2 linked regions of the Homo sapiens genome follow. The protein of the gene in region 2 interacts with the protein of the main gene of each other region in a pairwise test. Each region holds a gene or a part of one and is shown on either strand. Other genes may lie near its edges.

Region 1 (3,917 bases), on a different chromosome or scaffold from region 2:
AACTAAATATTAAATATACTGGTAAAATTAATATTCTGTAAACATTTTCCCAAAACTACTTAGTTTCAGAAGACAAAGCATTGGTCACTACAAGGAGATAGTTCTGAAGCTTCTGTGTCTTTTTAGAAAATAATGCCCAGAGACTCTGCTTACACATATGGAAGATTATAAAAGTTAGTCACATCACAGGCATAGTGCACTTAGATAGAAATTAGTCACTGGGTTTCCTCAATTCTACAGAATAGCTACAAACCTGTAAGTCAATGAAAAAGACTTCTGGTTTGTTTTTGGTTTTGATGTACTATTTTCCCAGATAAAGGCAGTTCTAATGGCTTCCACTTGGTCTTTTCTACCATAATAGCCTCAATACACACTTTGGGGAACTAACGTGGGGATTCTGCCAGCTGCTAAGTGTGTTAATTTGAGTTAAGCACTCTGGAATTCGGGAATAATCACAGGAAGCATTCAGGGATCCACTGGACCCACCGTGAGATGGACCTGAGTTAAAACTCTATTGATCACCTGACCCCATCCCCTACTCTAATTGGAAGGCCACAGTGATGTTTTGGGTCTTCTAGAATTGGTGTTCATTTAGAACCAGTGTCCAGCAGTCCCTAAAAGGTGTGATTATTTCCTTTTCCCCAGTGCGCATGGGGAACTGTTACCCTGAGAAAGGCCATGGTTCCCTTTGTGGAAGCCTGGGAGAAAGATTAACGGTATAAATTTCAGGTAGCATCGTTTTTCGTTGAGGGCATCTGTCCTCTCCTTCATTCAAGGGGTCCTGGGCCTACAAAGGCTCAAGTGTGAGAATTGATTGAGGGGCCAGGACTCTCTGTTTTTATGATTCAAGCTCGACTTTTATTCACTTGACATAGAACTTTCTTATACAAATCAAGTAAGATTTTAGCAGGCTTGCTATCTAATTCACTTCTAGACAACACCATGATCAACTAGCAAACATCATATAACTGAATAACTCAGATTATTCCAATTGTTGCCTTGCTTTCTGTCCATTACACTAACCACACCTACCTTGCCTTTGATGTTCCAGTGCTCCTACCTGAAAAGGGGTTTTTAATCACAGCATCCCAAAACACAGATGCGGTGAACCTCACATTAGAATCTACCCAGAATCTCAATGACTCTATTGATATACAATTCTCACTAAATCTGGTTATCTGATTGCTTACAGAAAAATTTAAATAGAAATTTAATAGACATAAATGTAAACACAATCATCTTGGAGTTCTAAAAAAATCTAAGAAAAAGTTTAATCTCACTAACGATGAAGAAAATGTACATCAAAATAAGATTTTTTTTTTTTGCATCAAACAAAATATTTTAAAATGATAAGGTGTACTGCTGGATACGCTTATTTATATAGATGGATATGCTTATTCACACACTGCTGTGAGAACAGAAAATGACAGACTTCCGGAAAGCCACTTGGCAAAGGCCTTAAAATTGTATATGTAGGGCTGGGTGCAGTGACTCACGCCTGTAATCCCAGCACTTTGGGAGGCTGAGGCGAGCAGATCACCTGGGGTCAGGCGTTTGAGACCAGCCTGGCCAACATGGTGAAACCCTGTCTCTACTAAAAATACAAAAATTAGCTGGGCGCAGTGACTCCCACCTGTAGTCCCAGCTACTCGGGAGGGTGAGGCAGGATAATTGCTTGAAACCAGGAGGCAGATGTTGCAGTGAGCCGAGATCGTGCCACTGCACTCCAGCCTGGGCGACAGAACGTGACTCCATCTTAAAAAAAAAAAAAAAAAAAAAAAGAAAAATTGTGTATGTATTGTGGCACCATAATTAAACATATAAGAATTTATTTCAAAAAAATACTCACTGGTATATGAAAACACTTATCTATAGTGATACTCATAATATCAATAGAAAAATACTGAAAACAAATGTCTAAAAATTGAGGATGGGTTAAATATTCAGGCAACATAACTGCATGCATGTTTCAAATTTTAAATAGGTCAAATTCAAACCAGAAATAATTAAAAATGAGGCTGTCATTAAAAATGGTGGTGTTGCCCAGGTACAGTGGCTCATACTTAATCCCAGCACTTTGGAAGGCCAAGGCAGGACGATCACTTCAAGCCCAGGAGTTTGAGACCATTCTGGACAACAAAGTGACAGCCTGTCTCTACAAAAAATTCTTTTAAAAATTAGCCAGGCAGAGTGGCATGTGCCTGTAGTTCCAGCTACTCGGGAGGCTGAGGCAAGAGGACTGTTTGAGCCCAGAAGTCTGAGGCTTCAATGAACTACTGCGCTCCAGCCTGAGAGACAGAGTAAGATCCCATCTCTTAAAAAATAAAATAAAATAGTGTTGTCAAACAACTTTTAATAAGACAAAGTTATTTTTTGAAAAAGTGTGTAATTGCTCAATATTACACACAGAAAGGTAAAAAAAATAAATGGTTTCATAGATTAATATATAGACAGCCATGACAGATTTACCCATTTATCATTGAAGATGTGTCAATATTTACTATTTTGAAATCGTTATTACACGCAGGACTAAACTAAACCTTTTTAACTTTATGAAATGCCTATGTATTTATTTATTTACTTATTTAAGACAGGGTCTTGCCCTGTTGCCCAATTAGGGTGCAGTGGTGTGATCACAGCTCACTGTACCTCGAACCCCTGGGCTTAAGTGATCCTTCCGCATCAGCCTCCTGAGTAGCTAGCACTACAGGCATGCACCACTATGCCCAGTTAATTTTTTGTAGAGACCAGGTTTCACTATGTTGCCTAGGCCGGTCTCAAGGGATCCTCTCATCTCCGCCTCCCAAAGCAGAAGTGACCCTTTTTATTTCATGTGTTGTTAATCTAAAATTTAATTATATTATTTTAATCCCACAAGTATTATTTCTATTGTTTTATAGTTAATATTCATTTAAGTGTTATGTGAATATTCACGATTTTATCAACCCTTATTGAACTTAGATCTTCTATGTGGGATCATTTTCTTCTACCTGAGTACAGGTACAATTTCTTTTCATAAGAAACCACTATGGGCTGGGCGCAGTGGCTCACGCCTGTAATCCCAGCACTTTGGGAGGCTGAGGCGGGAGGATCACAAGGTCAGGAGTTCAAGACCAGCCTGGCCAACATGGTAAAACCCCATCTCTACTAAAAATACAAAAATTAGCCGGGCGTGGAGGTGCATGTGTGTAATCCCAGCTACTTGGAAGGCTGAGGCAGGAGAATCGCTTGAACCCAGGAGGCGGAGGTTGCAGTGAGCCAAGACCGCACCACTGTGCTCCAGCCTGGCGACAGAGCGAGACTCCGTCTCAAAAAAAAAAAAAAAAAAAAAAAAAAAGAAACCACTAGTATTGAATTAACCTAGATTAACCTAGTTTGTGTTTGTCAGAAAACATATTTATCTTAGCCTTAATTCTTGAAGGAAATTTTCACTTGAGATTAAGTCCTAGGATCAACAGTTATTTGCACACATTGGCAATATTGTTCTACCGTCTTCAGACTTCCATTACTGCTGTTCCTTTGAAGGCACTCTGTCATTTTTTCTTTAGCTGCATTTAAGATTATCTTCACTTTTTATTCTACAGTATTACTCGCATGTGTCTAAGTATGGATTTCTTTTTATTTTTCTTGCTAGGGCTTTGCCGAATTGGAATTCACTGGGTCCCTTGAATCTATAGATTGCTATTCTTCATCACTTTTGTAAAATTCTCAACAATTATCTCTTCAAATATTGCCCATGCTCCATTCTTTTCCTCCTGGAAGTCTGATTAAACATACATCAGATAGTCTGTTCTACGTCTCTTACTCTCTCTTCTATATTTTTTGCCTTTTGTCTCTCTGTGCTACACAGCAGGTTTTTCTTGTCATCTATCTTTTGCTCGTTAATTCTCTCTTCAAGTTGTATCTAATCTGGTGTT
Region 2 (3,917 bases):
CCCGCAGAAGAACCCCACGCCAGGCTCCGGGAGGACAAACAAGGGGAGCCTCCGCCACCAGGTGAGTTTTCTCCTCCAGGAGATGGCTCCTCCACGCTGCCCGGCGGTGACCCCGCGTGCCTGCTCAAGTCCTGCTCCCCCGGCTTGGGGACACGCTCCTCTCCAGCTGCGGCCGGCGGAGGCGCCACCTCCGGGTCGCCCAGGGTGGTGACCCCGGAGCCCGCAGCCCCAGCCACGCAGGTATCGTGGCCTCCGTCCTCCGCGCGACTCCTCGCGGGTCCCGCCTCCCCCTCGCGAGCGGAAGCGCAGGCCTGGCCGTCAGTTCCGGACCGGTCCGCGGACTCTTCCGGCGCGGCGGCGGCGACGGCGACAGCGGGCTCCCGGCGCGCGGCCGGCAGCACCACTGGCAGCGTAACCACCAGCTGCCGCCGGGCCTTGTTGAATTGTGCCTTGCCGCGGCCATCGTCCACTGGGTACGGGAGCGAGAGCCGCAGCCGGTAGTCAGGTTTCCTCGAGTCGAGGCACAGCAGCTTTCTCGTTACCTCCAGCGCCGCCTGCTCGGCCGAGCGCAACAGCGGCAGTTCGATGGTGATCACCAGCTCATGGGGCACGGGGCTCGGGGCTGAGTCCCTGGAGCAGCGGTAATCCTGGAGGTCCACGTGGTGGCGCTGCACCACGCTGTAGCGAGGCTCGGTGGGGGCGGGCTGCAAGGCCGCTTCCGGAGGGGAGGGCGCCCGGGGCCCGGGGGCTGCCGGGTACTGGTAAGGGTAGGGGAAGTCCGGGAGAGGACCCTTCGGCTCCCCGTCAGGCCTTGCGGGGATGACCCCGGGCAGGGGCGTGCGCAGCACCGCAGCCTCTGGGGTCCCCTTATACTTGGCCTTCAGGGTCTTGGCATTCCTGCGGTCCAGCTTCACGCCGAACTGCTTCTCGACGGCCTCCAGGGCCGTGGCGTCCAGCATCTGGCGGAAGCCCTCGTGCCGCCGGGCCAGCGCAAGCGCGTCTGGATGGAAGACCACGTCGTAGACCATGTAGCGGCTGCTGCTGCGCCCCGCGTACTCGCGGCCGGGCGCCAGGCTGTAGGGCAGGGACCAGTGGCTGCCAGGAGCTGCGCCCCGGTCGCCACCGGAGCCGGGCCGGCTGCTGGGCGCGCCCACCAACGCGTTGCTGCAGACATTCACAAAGCAGCGCCGCGCCCCGTCCAGGCTGGTGCGCAGCACATGGCCGGGCTCCGGGTGCACGAACCGCACTTCCACCCCGCGCTCACGCTCTAGCGCGGTGATCTCCGCCTCGTAGCGCCGCCGGTTCTCCGGGTCGGTGAGCTCCTCGGCGTACTGGGAGAACATTCGCCGGAACTCCGGGTCCTGGAAGGCGGAGGTGAGCCGCTGGACCTCCTCTCCGCTCAGGTCCAAGTCCTCCAGCGACGAGGAGGCCGCCGCTTTGGCCATACTGTCCTGTGGCTCCTCGCCCTCGGGCCAAAGGCGATCAGTCTGACACTGGGTTGGGGGATCCGCCTCAGAGTTTCTGGGCAGCGTACAGTGACGCGGTGGAGGTCGGTAACGGCTGGAAAATTGAGCCTTGAGCAGCGCGTGCTTGTTGTCATAGTTACACCACTAACATTCGGGAGGAGGGGTAGAGATCATGGTGGAATAGGCCGGGCGCGGTGGCTCAGGCCTGTAATCCCAGCACTTTGGGAAGCCTAGGCGGGCGGATCACGAGGTCAGGAGATCGAGACCATCCTGGCTAACACGGTGAAACCCCGTCTCTACTAAAAATACAAAAAATTAGCCGGGCATGGTGGCGGGTGCCTGTAGTCCCAGCTACTCGGAAGGCTGAGGCAGTAGAATGGGGTGAAACCCAGGAGGCAGAGCTCTTGCGGTGAGCCAAGATCGCGCCACTGCACTCCGGCCTGGGCGACAGAGCAAGTCTCTCAAGGAAATCATGGTGGAATAGTGGAAATGCCAGAAATAGCCCTCTTAGATTCTTCAAACCAACCCACCACCGTACTTTGTTTTGTTTTGTTTTGTTTTTCTTTTTTTGAGACAGAGTCTCGCTCTGTCACCCAGGCTGGAGTGCAGTGGCGCAGTTTCGGCTCACTGCAAGCTCCACCTCCCAGGTTCACGCCACTCTCCTGCCTCAGCCTCCCGAGCAGCTGGGACTACAGGCGCCTGCCACTACGCCCAGCTAATGTTTTGTATTTTTACTAGAGACAGGGTTTCACCGTGTTAGCCAGGATGGTCTCGATCTCCTGACTTCGTGATCCGCCCGCCTCGGCCTCCCAGAGTGCTGGGATTATAGGATTACAGGCATGAGCCACCACACCAGGTCCAAAACCTTTTTTTTTTTTTTTTTTTTTTTGAGGCTGTCTCACTCTGTCACCCAGGCTGGAGTGCAGTGGTGCAGTCTTGGCTCACTGCAACCTCCGCCTCCCGGGTTCAGGCAATTCTCCCTGCCTCAGCCTCCCAGGTAGCTGGGATTACAGTGACTCACCACCACGTCCGGCTAAGTTTTGTATTTTTAGTAGGGATGGGATTTCACCATGTTGGCCAGGCTGGTCTCCCACTCTTGACCTCATGTGATCTGCCCACCTCAGCCTCCCAAAGTGCTGGGATTACAGGCATGAGCCACCGCGCCCGGCCTAAAACCTTTCTAATGTGCATATTTTTTTGACCCAAATGCCCTTAGAGTATTTGACACAATACTCTTAGAACATTCTCAAGGTGACATCATTTATGATTCTAAAGGTTTGAGAAGAATCTACAAATTCAACAATGGAACTGATTGAGCAGGTTTTGGTAGAGCCACGCAACAGAGTTTTGTGCAACCATTCAAAATGATCATATGGAAGTATATTTATTTACTGGAGTAATTATTTATTCATTGGTAATTGGTCAATTCAGTGATCATTTTTCTATTCTCAGCAACATTTAACACAGTTGATGTTGGCATTACCTCAGTGACAAGACACTTTCCAGATTTCTCTTCTGTCTCATCACTCTCATAGTTTTGCTCTGTAGGTATCTACTTCTTTTCAACTTCTACATGGAAATGCCCCAAAACTGGGACCCAATCTCTTACCCATCTATACTCTCCTTCAGAAATATATTTACACTCACAAATACTTGTCTTAGACTCAGATTTTACACTCCTATATCCAGCTGCACGTTTGAGGTGTCCATTTGAGTGATTAATGCATAAGCTACTCAGGCTTGAAATGACCAAGATCAGAACTCCTGAATCCTCTTTTCCCAAACCACTGCCTTATCTTATGGTCTCTTGGAAGCATTCAAAGCAGTTGACTGCCCCTTCGAAACACATTTTTCTCATGTTTTGCAGAACTCCAAGCTCTCCCATTTTCCTCCTTTATGCTCCTGCCAGTTCTGCAAATGTGGGAGTTGCCCAAGGCTTTGTTCATCAGCCCTCTTACCTAATCACATTTCTTCCAAGATGTCTTATCCAAGCCCATAGTTTTAAATGCCATCTGTGTTCAAATTAGTCCTTTCAACAGATATTTATTGTGTGCTTATTGCACTTATTATATAGGTAATTAACAAAGATGTGAAGCAGTTGCATTGCTTTTTTTTTTGAGACAGAGTCTTGCTCTGTCGCCTAGACTGGGGTGCTTTGGCGCGATCTTGGCTCACTGCAACCTCCGCCTCCTGGGTTCAAACAATTCTCCTGCCTCAGCCTCCCAAGTAGCTGGGATTGCAGGCACCTACCACTGCGCCCAGCTAATTTTTGTATTTTTTAGTAGAGATGGGATTTCACCATGTTGGTCAGGCTGGTCTCCAACTCCTGAGCTCAGGTGATCCGCCCACCTCGGCTTCCCAAAGTGCTGGGATTACAGGCACAAGCCACCATGCCCAGCCAGCAATTGCACTTTCATATCCTGGGAGTATATATTGGAACACTGTTAACAT

Evidence for each region.
Region 1: the proteins of DNAAF2 (region 2) and UBE3D interact in binary tests that used the Homo sapiens proteins (3 or more experiments, as listed by UniProt).

What each region holds. Positions count from the first base shown.
Region 1 is NC_000006.12:83,024,125-83,028,041, forward strand, and holds part of UBE3D (E3 ubiquitin-protein ligase E3D), read right to left. Parts: intron 1,756-3,917; exon of another isoform or gene 1,634-1,755; intron 1-1,633. UniProt on the Homo sapiens protein: E3 ubiquitin-protein ligase which accepts ubiquitin from specific E2 ubiquitin-conjugating enzymes, and transfers it to substrates, generally promoting their degradation by the proteasome.
Region 2 is NC_000014.9:49,633,705-49,637,621, forward strand, and holds the start of DNAAF2 (protein kintoun), read right to left. Parts: upstream 1,541-3,917; 5' UTR 1,446-1,540; coding exon 1-1,445. UniProt on the Homo sapiens protein: Required for cytoplasmic pre-assembly of axonemal dyneins, thereby playing a central role in motility in cilia and flagella.